4 linked regions of the Homo sapiens genome follow. The protein of the gene in region 3 interacts with the protein of the main gene of each other region in a biochemical or structural test. Each region holds a gene or a part of one and is shown on either strand. Other genes may lie near its edges.

Region 1 (3,500 bases), on a different chromosome or scaffold from region 3:
TTTTGTTTTGTTTTGTTTTGTTTTTTGAGACAGAGTCTCGCACTGTCACCCAGGCTGGAGTGCAGTGGTGCGATCTTGGCTCACTGCAAGCTCTGCCTCCTGGGTTGCTGCCATTCTCCTGCCTCAGCCTCCCAAGAAGCTGGGACTACAGGTGCCTGCCACCATGCCTAGCTAATTTTTTTTTGTATTTTTAGTAGAGACGGAGTTTCACCATGTTAGCCAGGATGGTCTCGATCTCCTGACCTCGTGATCTGCCCGCCTCGGCCTCCCAGAGTGCTGGGATTACAGGCGTGAGCCACTGTGCCTGTTCTGAACTCAGCTGTTTAAGAAGCATCATACTATCACACTCAGACGAAAGCATTCCCAGGATCAGGGTATGTTAAAAGTTCAGATTGACAGCCTAGCTCTGTCTGTATGTGATTGGCCAGAACTGTAGCACACAGCCACCCGTAGTGCAAGGAATGCCTGGCTTCCCAGCCGTTAGTGGGTTGGGAATGAGTGAGGAGAGACAGCAGGGAGCCCTGCTCTTGTATCTCCAGTAACTTCCAGCTAAACGAGCACCATCCACCCCCACCCATCCTCCTGTTCGATTTTAATAATGGAACATAAGCAGCAAACAGGCAGGGACATTTCTGGTTTACTGCTGTATTCCCTGCACTTAGGTGGTTTTTGCCACATAATAGGCTCACAGTAAACAAATATTTGTTAAAGAAATGATTGGGAGTTGTGGGTTGAACGTAAAAGAACTTCCTTTATCTTGGCTTTTGTTGAACTAAATACTGTTGAGCAAGTTCTAATCATTATTTCTATTGTACATGATCTATCTTGAACAACAGTTTATACCTCATTTATGCCTTTCCTGGGTCGTTTGAAATGACCTGTGATTGAACTCTGATATGGAACTGGTAAAAATGTGGAAGTTTCTGAAGAGGGACTGTGTTCCATCTGTTACATCAAGAACTTTATAGCCCCATTCAGAGGGGTGTGGTTCCTGGGAGCCTGGGCACCCTTAGGTGGCCGCCTTTCATGAGAGAGTATGATTCACACCTTTCCCAGGTTTCAAAGTCTCATCTGTGCTGATGCCTGCATAGCCCTATTTGAATCCCATGAGGCTGCAGTTGACTTAAAAGCCCTGGCTGGGGCTTAATCAAGCTTACTGAACAGAAAGGATTTCTGAATTGTGTAGTACTGTCTGTAGTCCTTTAGCTCTCAGTCCATTAGCAGGGTTCATTTCTACAGGAAATCATGATGTTTAAAAACCCCATCAGTATTGTATAGTGCATCTTTTGTTGACTCAGTACATGAGGATATTATTTATGCCTTAAATGTGGTAGGTGCTCAGTAGCCATAGTCTTAATTTTATATGGTAAAAGTCTTTTATCTTTAATATCTTAACGTAGTGCTAGTTCTTATAATATGACATTAGAGGGATGTCATTCTAACTCCTATTTGTTTACATTTGTGTATAAGGTATGCTGTGATAAGTGCTGTAAGCAAGGCATACATGATAGTAGAAGCATCCAATTTATCAACCAATTTTATTTGAGGATCGTTGTAACTCATTTGTTTGGAATAATAGGTCATTTTTCCCATTTAAAATGTTTTAATTTGGGCATAGTGGCTCATGCCTGTAATCCCAGTGCTTTGGGAGGCTGAGGCAAGGATTGCTTGAGCCCAGGAGTTTGAGACTAGCCTGGACTGCAAAGCAAGGCCCCATCTCTACAGAAAATTTTAAAATGAGCCGAGTGTGGTGGTGCACACCTGTCGACCTAGCCACTGGGGAGGCTGAGGAGGGCCGATCCCTTGAGCCCAGGCGTTCGAGGTTACGGTGGGCTGATCGTGCCAGTGGACCCCAACCTGTGTGACAGAGTGAGACCCTGTCACAAAAAAAAAAAAATGTTTTAAATGACAAGAATAAGTGAAGGAGACTAATGTTGATTTATGAAGAGAATAAAGAATTGGGGAGAGATATTCTTAAAGGCGAGTGTAAAATGTTACCGTGCTTGAACTTTCATTTGTGTTCTCTCATGTATACTTAACGAGAACCTTATAAGGCTGGTGGGATTTTTTTCCCTTTTACAGATACAAAAACTAAGGTTTAATGAAAGTGTGGTTTTCTGAATCTGAGTCCTTATGTTTTAAACCCATTTCTCTTGGTTCCAGCTATAGTGTTCTTTATTCTACAGCTCACTTGTAAGGTATGGTAGGTTTCAATAAATCATGATGAAAGGAAAGAATGAAAAGACAGAAAGGAAGAAGGGAGAGAGGGAGGGAACTAAAGAAGGTGTGTGCATATAAGAATGGCGGAATTACCGACTCACTATCACTGAAAGGGGGAAGTGGAGGCTGAGGGTTGGGCTAATGAGCTCATTGTTCTGGTCTAAAAACTGCCCTGTTCTCTCAGCCAGTGAATTGTCTGTTATTAACTAGAAATTTTGTAATTTGTGGTGAGGTAGCAGTTTTACTGATTGAATCAGGTTATATATTCTTTGTTGGGAAGTGAGTGGGTCCTTCTGTGATCATGCAGAGAACATTTTTTTTAGCCCGAGTCTTTGCCAAGATTAAAAGAAATATAAGAGGAAAACAATTTTTGTTTTGCATTTATATTTTGCTAGATTTGCATAATCTTTGTTTAAGCCAGTTGAATGTGAATCCCTAAATACATTTCAGGCATTTAAATATTTAAAAGGATTCATCCACAGTACTTTACTCACCCAAAGAATAAGTGCTTACAACAAAGAAAATAACACCCTTGCAGATGTAGCCTATGTAGACTTTGTTCACCTTGTCATTGAATTATACAACATTAATAGAGAAGCTAGAATTTGAACATTCACTGAAATGCTTAGCTGGCTCTGTTCCAAAATATTGTTTCCCTGGTAGAGAAAGCAGGACAATTTGTTTAAAACTGGCAGTTTGCCAGTCAGAATAGCTCTGACGCAATCATTGCAGTAACTACTTTGCTCTGACTGCTAATTTTAGGGCAGTTAAATCTGGGTGATGTCTGATGGCTGCTGTCGCTGTGCGTCTGGTTATGTGAAGCTTTCTAAATTCATCCTCTTAGCTTGGCACCGTAACTTAGTTCTTTCTGAGATAAGCTGTGGAGCAGAGGGGATGTTGAGTCGGCACAGGATATGTGCATGGAATGAGGAACAAGGCCCTAGGAGAGTTTCAAGAGACACTGCTTTCATCTTACTACGCTCTTTGTTATTCCAATAGCAAAGGCTTAGCACATCTGTACTTCCCTTGCTGTAGCACCCTGGGAGGTGTTGAGGAAGGTGGAGAGAAGTGTACATCGAGACACCTACCTTCATGGAACAGGGTTCTGGCAATATGCACTTGCTTTCCTTGTCATCCCTGCAAGCATTAGTGTGTTTAAAAGTGAACTTTTATCTTCTTCCTTTTTGGAACAGGTAAAACTACGGAGAAAAATGGTAATTTAAAAAAATCTGGCCGGGCGTGGTGGCTCATGCCCATAATCCCAGCACTTTGGGAGGCTG
Region 2 (3,500 bases), on a different chromosome or scaffold from region 3:
CGACTTCTTGTCGATGTCTTTGATGGTGGCCTCATAGGAGTCCCCATTCTGTAGCTGCACCTTGAGCTGCTGCCTGCCCGGGGCAGCACTGTTGCTGGACACCACGTGGGCATTGGTGATGATCAGGCCGGCCTCTGACATGATGAAGCCAGAACCGCTGGACAGGGGCACGTTGCGGCCAAACAGCGGGTGTCTGCAGCCAGGGAGACACAGGCGGGCATTTAGGGTGGGGCTAGGACGCGGGGGAGTCAGGCGCAGTGGTGGGGCTGGTCAGCGAGGAGCAGAGCCAGTGTGTGGCTGACAGAACACAGGTCTGGAGTCCCTCAAGCTCCCATTTGAATCCTGGCCCTGTGACCTGGCCAAGTCACCGGCGCCTGCACCCATTCACAGCCATAAAGAGGTGATGATGATCACCTCTCGCTGCAATTTGCTGAGATGAGACAGGCTGCCTGCGACATGTCAGATGACTCCCAGCTTGCACTCGCCATCCTGACTACGGAGCACGGAGCCAGACAGACCAGGATGCTAATCCCAAGTCCAGGACCCACTTATTATCTGCCTGACCGTGGGCAGGTCAGTGAAGCTCTCTGAGCCTTGGTCTCCCCATTTGGGAAATGGGACAACAACACCTCCTCCGCCGAGTGGTGATGCCTGGGCTCTAAAACGCCTCTCAACAAACAGGACAATAATTGGCCCTAGGGGAAAAGCCCCATTGCACACACAGCATCCTGCAGGGCTGCAGCAGGTACCCAGGAAGGGAGGCTCCCCAGAGGCTGGGGCAGATTCCTGATCATCCCGACAGGGTGAGTGCTGGGAGGGCTGAGAAGGCTTATTCCCACCTCCCTCTACCCTCACCCCCAGGCTAGCTGCCTAAAGCCCCAAATGTGGCAGTGCTGGCAGCAGGCAGATGCAGGACCCGAGCCCTGGACACCCCGAGGGCAGGGGTGCAGAGGCACAGATGAGGCCAGCCTGGGCCCTGCCCTCTGTGAACGGTGTGGAGCTGGCCTGGGTTTGCATTGGTGTCTGCCGATGGGCAACAATCCCCAGTTCTCACCAGAGCTCTCTGAGTAGAAACCACAGCCCCACATCCAGCAGGGGAGGAGGCTGAATGCCAGACACAGCCTGGGACCTTCTCCAGGGTGGGAACCTTCGGGACCCCAGCGTGGGGCCCAGCCCAGAGCAGGTACTCACTCCCTGAGGCTGCTTAGTAGAGATGAGCAAGGAAAATGTGCGAGGGACAAAGTATGGAGGGATGGAAACGTCTGGCACGTGCAGGCAGGTGAGAGCAAGAGACAAAGCATGGAGGGATGGGAGCGTCTGGCACGTGCAGGGAGGTGACAGTCTCTGCAAAGTACAGGAGCTTCGCTGTGACCCACAGGACCAGAGATGGCAGCGAATGCCACCCTGTGCTCCCTCTGAGGCAGGCAGGCCATTGAATGCTCATGGGCACCCTGCAAGGGGGGTGCTGTGGTGAGCTGTATCCCTGCCAAGAGATACGGCCAAGTCCTAACCCCATGTGACTGTGAATGTGACTTTATTTGGAAACAGGGTCTTTGCAGGTGTCCTGAAGTTACGGTGACATCAGAGTGTGTCTGTGTTGTCTTTAAGGGAGGGAAGTCCAGTCTCACAGAGGGGAAGGCCATGAGATGATGGAGACAGAGCAGAGAGAGGGGTCTAAGGGCCGAGGCGTACCAAGGACTGCGGAAAACACTAGAGCCAGTAGAGGGGCCTGGGACACTCCCCCAACATCCCCCAGAAGAAAGCAGCCCTGCTTGATTAGGACCTTGACACCTTGATTAGGACTTCCAGCCTCCAGAACCATGGGAGCAAACATCTCTGTCATTTTAAGCCATGCAGTCTGTGGTACTTTGTTATGGCAGCCACAAGAAACTACTGTCGTCCCTAACTCTCAGGTCTTTATGGTGGGAAAACTGAGTCCCGAGACGCTGAACTACTTGCCTAGGTCAGGCGGGCAGGCAAAGGGCAAAGCAGGGGTCTGCCCCAGGCAGCCTGGGCATCTGGCCACTTGGCCACCCCACACGGTGACCCCAGCATCTGTCCACTCACATCCGCAGCCAGCTTCTGCCACACCCACTCCGTGTGTGCCCCAGAGTAGGAACTGCACCTGTTTTGCCTGCGGAAGCCCCAGGGTGCCTCACAGGGCCAGGCACCTGCGGGGTCTGCAGAAAATGCCCGCGGCTGCCCACTGGCCTCCATGCCCACACTCAGACCTCAGGTCAGGGGTCACAGCCGGGAGGCCTGTGCTGGAAAAGCATCTGTCTCATCTTTGCTGGGTCTCACCCACCCACTCAGAGCATCAGTCACTGGAGGCTCTGAGGGCAGAAACGGCCTCCCAGCCGGGCTGGAGTCAGTAATTAGTTGGTTCAGAGCCTGGTGGCTGGGGCCTTCCAGAAAGATGCTGCCCCCATCCCTACCTCCTGGAAGGCCAGCAACGTGCCACTTAGTGCATCCAGTTATAATTTCCTCAATGACATGTCTCAGGGCCCGGGGCTCGAGGGAAGGGCAGTGAGGGGTCAGTGTGCTGCCAAGGGGGCAGTGAGAGGTCCATCAGCACGGGGCACCGGACAGGGTGGCAACCAGGGCTGTGGGTCCTGCATGGGTGGTGCCTCCAGGGCTGTTTTGAGAAACATGGGCTACACAGCCCACAGCCCAGGGAGCTCCCAGCAGGTGTGGAGGATGTGATGCTGAGGTGCTATATGCCCGTCACGCGCTCTCACACCCCTGTTCAAGGAGCACGACCTCTGCTGGAGAGCCCGGGATGGGGAGGGCAGAGGGGCCGTGACGCCTAGTGACAGGGGCTTGGACCAGACAAGCGCCGAGCCAGCCAGCAGGGAGGCGGTGCTGGAGCAGGAATCACTCCTGGGATCTCCCCATGAGCCACCAGATGCTCAGTCCCCAGGGCCGGGCCTAGGGCAGTGGAGCCTCGTCACAGGGAGGCTGGAGGCCTCAGGGAAAGTACCGTGAAAACAAGCAAGTCCCTGGAGCCCTGGCCTGCGGCCTCTGGTGACTGCTCATTGCCGGCTCCGTGTCCGCCTGGACCCGCCGTCTGATCCCTATCAGGGTGGAATGAGGCTTGGTTCCGGGGCCTCCTCATCAGGCTGTTTGCCGGCTCTGTGCACACCCAGGGACCAAAGGGCCAGCAAAGGTGGATGGGAGAAACACTCTAAACTTCAGAAGAGTCATTCAGTCTGCTTCTGCGGGATATAAGTCAATCTGGGATGAGCCCTCAGGATTCGGTGTGAGCGATCAGACATTGGGCAGCTTGCACAGCGGGAGGTTCTGAAGGCAGGGCTCCCCCAAACCAGCTCAGAGGGTCTCTGTGATGGGGGAAGTAGGAGAGGCTGGGGATGGTGGCAGGGACCGGGGCAGGCCCTGTGGGAAGAAGGGGAGGAGGCTTTGCCTGTGCATCTGCAAGGAGAGGCCTTGCTCGGGGGTGAAGCCACACGGTACACACCACTTCCTCTACGGGGCTGGGACAT
Region 3 (3,770 bases):
ATTCTAGAAAATGAATGCACTGTAAGACATGGAAGTTTTTATTTTCATTGACCTCTACTAACTGTATTAAATATCGTAATGTACTCATAAAACACCAATGCTTGGATAATTTTAGTTTGAGGGCTAAATGAAAGCTTCTGGTAGATGTTGGTGTAAACACAAGAGGTGTTCCTAGGGAACTGCACAAAGGAGAAATGATAAGGTTTTCTTCTAAAAATAAAAATGTTGAGGAACAAAAGAAACACATGCACTGTACAGGTTATTTTAGTTCCATATATAGACTAATTAACTTGTTTGGAAATAAAGATTATTAAACTTTTTACTCAAAATATTTATTAGTATTATATCATTTTGAGATAATAATTTACAATAGATTTTCTTAATCAAATTTGCTTTGAAAGAAAATATTTGCAAACCATACATCTCACAAGCGATTGATATCCTACATATATAAGAAATGCAAACATCTCAATGGTAAGAAAACAAACAGATTTAAAAATAGGCAAAGCATCTAAATAGACATTTCTCAAAAGAAGACATAAAAATGGTCAACAGGTATATGAAAAAGTGTTCAAAATTACAAATCATCAAATTGCAGAGAAACTACAGTGAGATATCACCTCATACTTGTTAGGATAGTTACTATCAAAAAGAGAACGGATAACTGTTGGAGAGGATGTGGAGGAAAGTGAACCATTACATGCTGTTTATGGGAATGTAAATTAGTACAGTCATTATGGAAAACAGCATAAAGCTTCCTCAAAAAATTAAAAATTGAACTACCATATGACCTAGCAATACCACTATCGGGTATATATTCAAAAAATACAATCAGCACGTCAAAGAAATATCTGCACTCCCATGTTTATTGTAGCATTATTCACAATAGCCAAGATATAGATTAACCTAGGTGTCCATCGCTTAGGAAGAATGGATAAACAAAATGTGGTATATGTGCACAATGGAATAATATTTAGATTTAAAAATTTGCAACAATACAGATGAACCTGTAGGACATTATATTACATGAAATAAGCCAGGCACAGAAAGACAAATACTACATGATCTCACATACATGTGGAATCTAAAAATGCTGAACTCACAGAGGTAGACAGTAGAATTGTGTTTATCTGCAGCTGGGCGTGTGGGAGGAGATGTTGGTCAAAGGATATAATATTTTAATTAGATAGAAGGAATAAGTTAAAAACTATTGTATAAATGGTAACTATAGTAATAAAAATCTATTGGATTAGTGTTCTCACCACACACACACAAATAAATATGTTAGGTAATATATATGTTAACTAGCTCAATTTAGGCATTTCGCTATACACACACACACACATTCAAAATAACTTGTACACAATAATATATACAATATTTTTTGACCATTAAAAGTTGTCAAAGTTTTTGTTTGTTTGTTCATTGGTGGTGGTGGTAGTTTGGGGGACAATCTCTCTCTGTCGCCCAGGCTGACGTACAGTGGCACAATCAAGGCTCACTGCAGCCCCAACTTCCTGGACCCAAGCAATACTCCTGCCTCAGCCTCCCAAGTAGCTGGAACTTCAGGCACACACCACCATGCCCAGCTAATTTTTGTATTTTCTGCAGAAATGAGGTTTCTCCTTGTTGCCCAGGCTGGTCTCAAACTCCTGAACAGAAGTGATTCACCCACCTCAGCTCCCCAAAGTGCTGGGACTACAGGCATGAGCCACTGCACTCAGCAAACATAAATAGTTTTCTAACGGACTTTAAATTATTGTTTTATCTTCATTTAAGCTGTTAATTTTTTAGTAATGTTTACAAATTTGAGTCAAAATGCGAAGAAGGAAAAGCTAATATTGGAGTATGTTATTGAAAAGCTGGTATGAGCAATGGTGGTTCAATTTTACCAGCACTTCCTCAGAAGTGCATATGATGTTTCCCAAGATGGCTGTCCTGTGTGACAGGATGATGTGGCATTACACACAATTTTCACTGTTACTGGGTAAAGGTGACCCCAAGAGCAAGAATTCTTTGAGCTGACTGTACATAAGCCAAATGAGCATCTGAAATTGTGGAGAAGTTTCCAGAGTGAAAGTGCAAAGCACTTGCTGGAAATTTGAAGTGTAACACCTTCAATGCAAGTTAACTCTCAGCTTGCACACAGCTAATAAATGTGCCTCAAGTCTGCTGAAATGAGAAACAGGAGGTAGTCTGAAAGAATGTGGCATGAGAAACCAAGGGTGTTTGGTATAATCATTAATAAATATTTGAGTGTGTATTCTCTACTCGAGCTTATAGTCCATTGAAGCAAGGGAAATGTACAGAGTAGACGTTCAAATGATCATAAAATTACCACAAGCAATGCAAGCTAAGAAGAAAAAGAGATAGTTTTTCTGAAAGAGAACATAAGGATGATATGGAAAAGTAATGCAGATTGAGTTTCAGAGATGAGTTTTCTGAGGAAATAACTTTAAGTCCCCTTAGCTTTTAGAAATATATTTTTTTCTAAGTCGGATCCTGGCAATTTTTTCACTAGTTATACTTAGATACACTAGTAATAGCAAATAAGTAATAAGTAAATAAGCTTAAAGAAATCATTTAACTTGGCTCCACATGGAAGAAATAGATTAACAGTTGAATCTTCCCAGACTCAGGTTAATAGAGTCCATGATTGATTGAGAATTTTCTCAGGCAAGAAGATCCAAATCTACTTGGTATGCTCAATTTTATACATGCCATGTTTTTAGAGTTCCCGGGAAATAGTCCTATTAACCTATGGCTCATTCACCTACACTCCCTTCAACTAAAAGGATGGACAAACTATAGTTTCGATATCCAGGAGCCTGTGATTAAATATATATAAACAGAGTAAGCTGCATTACCTGGAATCTGATCAAAGCAACTTAACCAGCCCCATCCAAATATAGACAAGTGAAATATTTCTTCTGGTTATAGAAACATAGCTTATTGTATTTGATCACGTAGCACCCTCACTTTCATTTTAAAGCAATTTTATTGAAGTATATTTTATATATCATAAAATTCACTAAATATCTACATAGCAAGGAATTTTCTCATTACCAGCACAGGTAAAATTATGTTCTGCTCTAGGCATAGAGAATTAAGGGTAGTTTAGACCATGCTATTCAGGTTCCAACTCTATCACCAGATTTGCTATGTTTACCCATCAGGCATCAAACATATTTTTTAACCTTCCTGTGCCACATGTTTGAAAAGAAAGAAAAAATAAGTATTGCTTTAGGGACTCCTTGGTTGTTGAGAGGGTTTAATGACTTAAAAAATCAGGTGTTAACAAGTTATCATATCTGCATTGGGATTTTTCACAGAACAAATACACATACATCTTAGCATAGAATAGGTCAGAATGTTACCAGTTATATTATAGATTCTTGAAGAACCTTCTAAAGTAAATTTTAATCAACTTGAAATATAAATTAAATTAGATTAGATTTAAAAACATATGTAGCTCTTCGAGAGATAAATAGATAAAGTAAGTATGACATACATATGGCTTTCCTATACTTAGCTTAAATGAGGAAATAATAAAAAAGCTTTCAAGGACCTAAGGTGGCAAGAACTATGATAGACGCTGGAGACGTGGCAATAAACCACATGTACGGGGGAATCTTCATGAAGACTGAAGTCCAGTGTAGGTTGAAGGCAAGTACAAACTAGAATAGGAAAATGCAAAGCAGATGATATATTGGATTGCACAATTATAACACATACACGGATATGTAACTTATATTCTGAAATTTTGATTA
Region 4 (3,500 bases), on a different chromosome or scaffold from region 3:
GGGTTAGAACAGTGAGGAGTGCTTGCTGAGGAGCTGGCAGCAGGGACAACACCAGAATTCTCTTTATTGTTGGGGTCAATCCGGAAGCGAATGGCAGAAATAGAAGACACTCGAGAGTCGATGACTGATTTGGTTTCCATGGTCTCGGGCTCCATCTCCATGACCCTGGAGGCTGGGTTTGTGCTCTTGGTCTCCCTCAGAGGAGCCAGCAGCCCCAAGGCCTTGGTCTCCAGAAGGCCAGGCTCACCCTGCATGTCCTGCAGAGAGGACACAGTTGGGGAGGGTGCACCAAGGGCCAGGTAGGGCTCCCTGTCATAGTAGCACACGTCGTCTACACTCTCCAGGGAGGCTGATGGCACCAGGGGAAATGAGACCTGAGAGGTGTAGTCGGTCTGTAGGAAAGACCTTCTTTTCCTCAGGGTCTTGGCATATTTCTTCACCCCTCCCCTCCTGCTTGGCTGTCTTCCATCTGGCCCACAAGGCAGGCTGTTCTCAGGGCTAGAAGTGCTGGCCTTATTCTGCAAGCTTGTGGCACTGGGTTCTGCAGTAGAAACATCTCTGGGCCCTGGGAGTCAGGAAAGAAAAAATACATTAAAAAGCACAAAAAAAAGAGGTTAATAGAGCTTGGGCTCAGGCCTTGGGCTTTCCTGGGTTTAAATTCTGGCTAGGCTGTGTAACCTTGAGCAAGTTCAATCCTGATCTCCTCAACTTCCTCATCTGAAAGATGGGGATAATAATTGTGACAGATTTTTTTTTATTTTTTTGAGACGGAGTCTCTTTCTGTCACCCAGGCTGGAGTGCAGTGGCGTGATCTCGGCTCACTGCAACCTCTGCCTCCCAGGTTCAAGCAATTCTCCTGCCTCATCCCCCCGGAGTAGCTGAGATTACAGGCATCTGCCACCATGCCCAGCTAATTTTTGTATTTTTAGTAGAGATGGGGTTTCACCATATTGGTCAGGGTGGTCTCGAACTCCTGACCTCAAATGATCCGCCTACCTAGGCCTGGGATTACAGGCATGAGCCACCGCGCCTGGCCGACTTTTTTTTTTCTTTTTTTTTGAGACAGGGTCTCACTCTGTCCCCCAGGCTATAGTGCAGTGGTGTGACGGCTCACAGCAGCCTTGAACTCCTGAGTTCAAGCAATCCTCCCACCTCAGCCTCCCAAGGTGCTTGGATTATAGGATTGAGCCACTGCACCCAGCTGTGATAGACATTATTAAATTTTTGGATGCCTAAGATCCATTTAATTATCTTTTGGTCACAGCATCTCAACTTCTGTTTAGGGAATGACATCTCCCCAATGGTTAGAGTCTGCTGGAACTGTTCACGAAGATGCTCTGTCCACGCCAGCCAATCAGCTACAAATTCTCCAGAATTCCAAACCCAAAGACATTAAAAAAAAAAAAAAAAAAAAAAAAAAAAAAAAAAAAAAAGCAGAGCCATTCTTTCCAACCACAATAGCTTGATAATACAGGTAGGGAATCCTGTGACTAGACTCTTAGCCTGGTTGCTGTCTATTTCTGAACCCAGGTCTTCAGGCTTGCCAGCAATTCTATAAACAATCTTACTTCCTAACACTTTTTCTTTGTGCTGATGTTAACCCAAGTCTTTTAGTGCCAATGGTGCCATTCAGTGCTGCCGTGCAGGTTAAAGGAATTAGTGCATTTTTATAAAGCACCCAGCACAAGGCCTCTGCCTCATTAGGTATTCACTAAAAGGAAGCTGCTCGTTATTGCCATTTCATGTCTGAATGTAAAGGGGCCACAACTCTGTCACAGGCATCGAGTTTTGTGCATCCCAGGATGGATCTTTCTGGGAGGAGAGGCACTATTGTAAAGAACCCTTGGGAATCAGCCAGAAGGAATTAGGATCAGAGCCTAGCACTTGAGAATCAGAGAGCTTGGGTAGTCAGACCAGTCATTTCTAACCTGGCTGTATGCTATTAGAAACCTTATCAAGTCCTAGGCTGCTCCCCACAATCTCTGAGGAGTCAGAATCTCTGAGGCTAGGGCCTAGGGATCTATAAGGTTTAGGTTTTTTTGTTTTTTGTTTTTTGAGACAGAATCTTGCTCTGTTGGCCAGGCTAGAGTTCAGTGGTGCAATCTCGGCTCACTGCAGCCTCTGCCTCCCAGGTTCCAGTGATTCTCCTACCTCAGCCTCCTGGGTAGCTGGGATTACAGGTGCACGCCACCATGCCTGGCTAATTTTTGTACTTTTAGTAAAGATGGGGTTTTGCCATGTTGGCCAGGCTAGTCTCAAACTCCCAACCTCAGGTGATCTGCCTGCTTCTGCCTCCCAAAGTGCTGGGATTACAAGTGTGAACCACTGCGCCCGGCCAAATCTATAGTTTTTAAACAAGGTCCCTCAGGTGATTCTGATGCCCAGTCACATTTGACTGCCCTAGGCTACTGACAGCCACCGACCAAGGAGTTTCTAAGTCCCAAAGACAAAGAGGCTCCAATAGTCAGTCAGGGGCCAAATCAGAACCCAGGCTGAGGAATCCTAGTTCTGGCTCTTTTCTCAGCACTACACTGGCTCCCTATAAAAAACAAAAACAAAAACAAAACAGTGTCTGGTATGAACCCCATATGTTCCTGACTAGACTCCCATAAAAGGGCCCTGACTGATGGTTTCTGCCACACTTCCATCCTGCCCCCCGGCACAATGGCTGGCCCTGCAGGGCAAGGCTGGGGCATGGAAAGTGGTTGTCTGGGTACTTTGGGGAGCAGTAAGGAGTCTGGCCATGGTTTCTCCTTTCCTTAGAGGTACAGTCAATTGAACTCAGTGTAGATGGTGGAGACTTCATTCATTCATTTAACAACAATTGCTAGACGCTGTGTGCTGGGGACACAGTGAGAAACACACAGTTCTAACGCTCAAAGGAGTTCTCGGTCTAGTGATGGAGAGAAACATCAACACAGAATCATACAAGTAAATATGTAATTTACAGGCTGTGCGAGGTGCCAGACAGGGAGAGCCCCAGGTAATGCAAGAACATGTGACAGAGATGGGGAGACTTGCCCTGGCCTGGGAAGCCTGGGAAATGTTCTCTGAGGAAGTGAATTCCAACCGGAATCTGATAGACGGATGGGCACCATCAGCCACGATCTGGGGAGGAGTGTTTCGGTCAGAAAGAGCAGCATGTGCAAAGGCTGGAGGAGGGGGAAAAAACAGGCACTTGTAGAAAGTGGCAAGGAGGTCTGTATGGCAGGAATGCAGGAGGAGGGAGAGAGACAGGCAGAGGCCATGTCACAGAGGGCCTCAAAGGGCCTGATGGGGCTCCCAGAGGAGCTGGCCTTTCTCTCCAGAACAGTGGGAGAGCACAGGAGGTCTGGGAATAGAGGATCAGAGAGCAGCAGGAAAGTGCCGAGACAGGAACAAGGGCTGCAGCTCTCCCAGCTCCTGGCAGGTCACCTTCAACATCCATGTGCTCTTTTCCAATATGTTTCCTTCAGAATGCAGTGTGTGTGTGTGTGTGTGTGTGTGTGTGTGTGTGTGTG

The links.
Region 1: the proteins of OR8G1 (region 3) and SIPA1L2 interact in a test that uses a peptide from one of them, tested with the Homo sapiens proteins (one large-scale study listed by IntAct).
Region 2: the proteins of OR8G1 (region 3) and HTRA3 interact in a test that uses a peptide from one of them, tested with the Homo sapiens proteins (one large-scale study listed by IntAct).
Region 4: the proteins of OR8G1 (region 3) and FRMPD1 interact in a test that uses a peptide from one of them, tested with the Homo sapiens proteins (one large-scale study listed by IntAct).

What each region holds. Positions count from the first base shown.
Region 1 is NC_000001.11:232,620,134-232,623,633, reverse strand, and holds part of SIPA1L2 (signal-induced proliferation-associated 1-like protein 2), read left to right. Parts: intron 1-3,500.
Region 2 is NC_000004.12:8,283,254-8,286,753, reverse strand, and holds part of HTRA3 (serine protease HTRA3 isoform 1 precursor), read right to left. Parts: intron 194-3,500; coding exon 1-193. UniProt on the Homo sapiens protein: Serine protease that cleaves beta-casein/CSN2 as well as several extracellular matrix (ECM) proteoglycans such as decorin/DCN, biglycan/BGN and fibronectin/FN1.
Region 3 is NC_000011.10:124,251,095-124,254,864, reverse strand, and holds the end of OR8G1 (olfactory receptor 8G1), read right to left. Parts: 3' UTR 501-3,770; downstream 1-500. UniProt on the Homo sapiens protein: Odorant receptor.
Region 4 is NC_000009.12:37,741,454-37,744,953, reverse strand, and holds part of FRMPD1 (FERM and PDZ domain-containing protein 1), read right to left. Parts: intron 566-3,500; coding exon 1-565. UniProt on the Homo sapiens protein: Stabilizes membrane-bound GPSM1, and thereby promotes its interaction with GNAI1.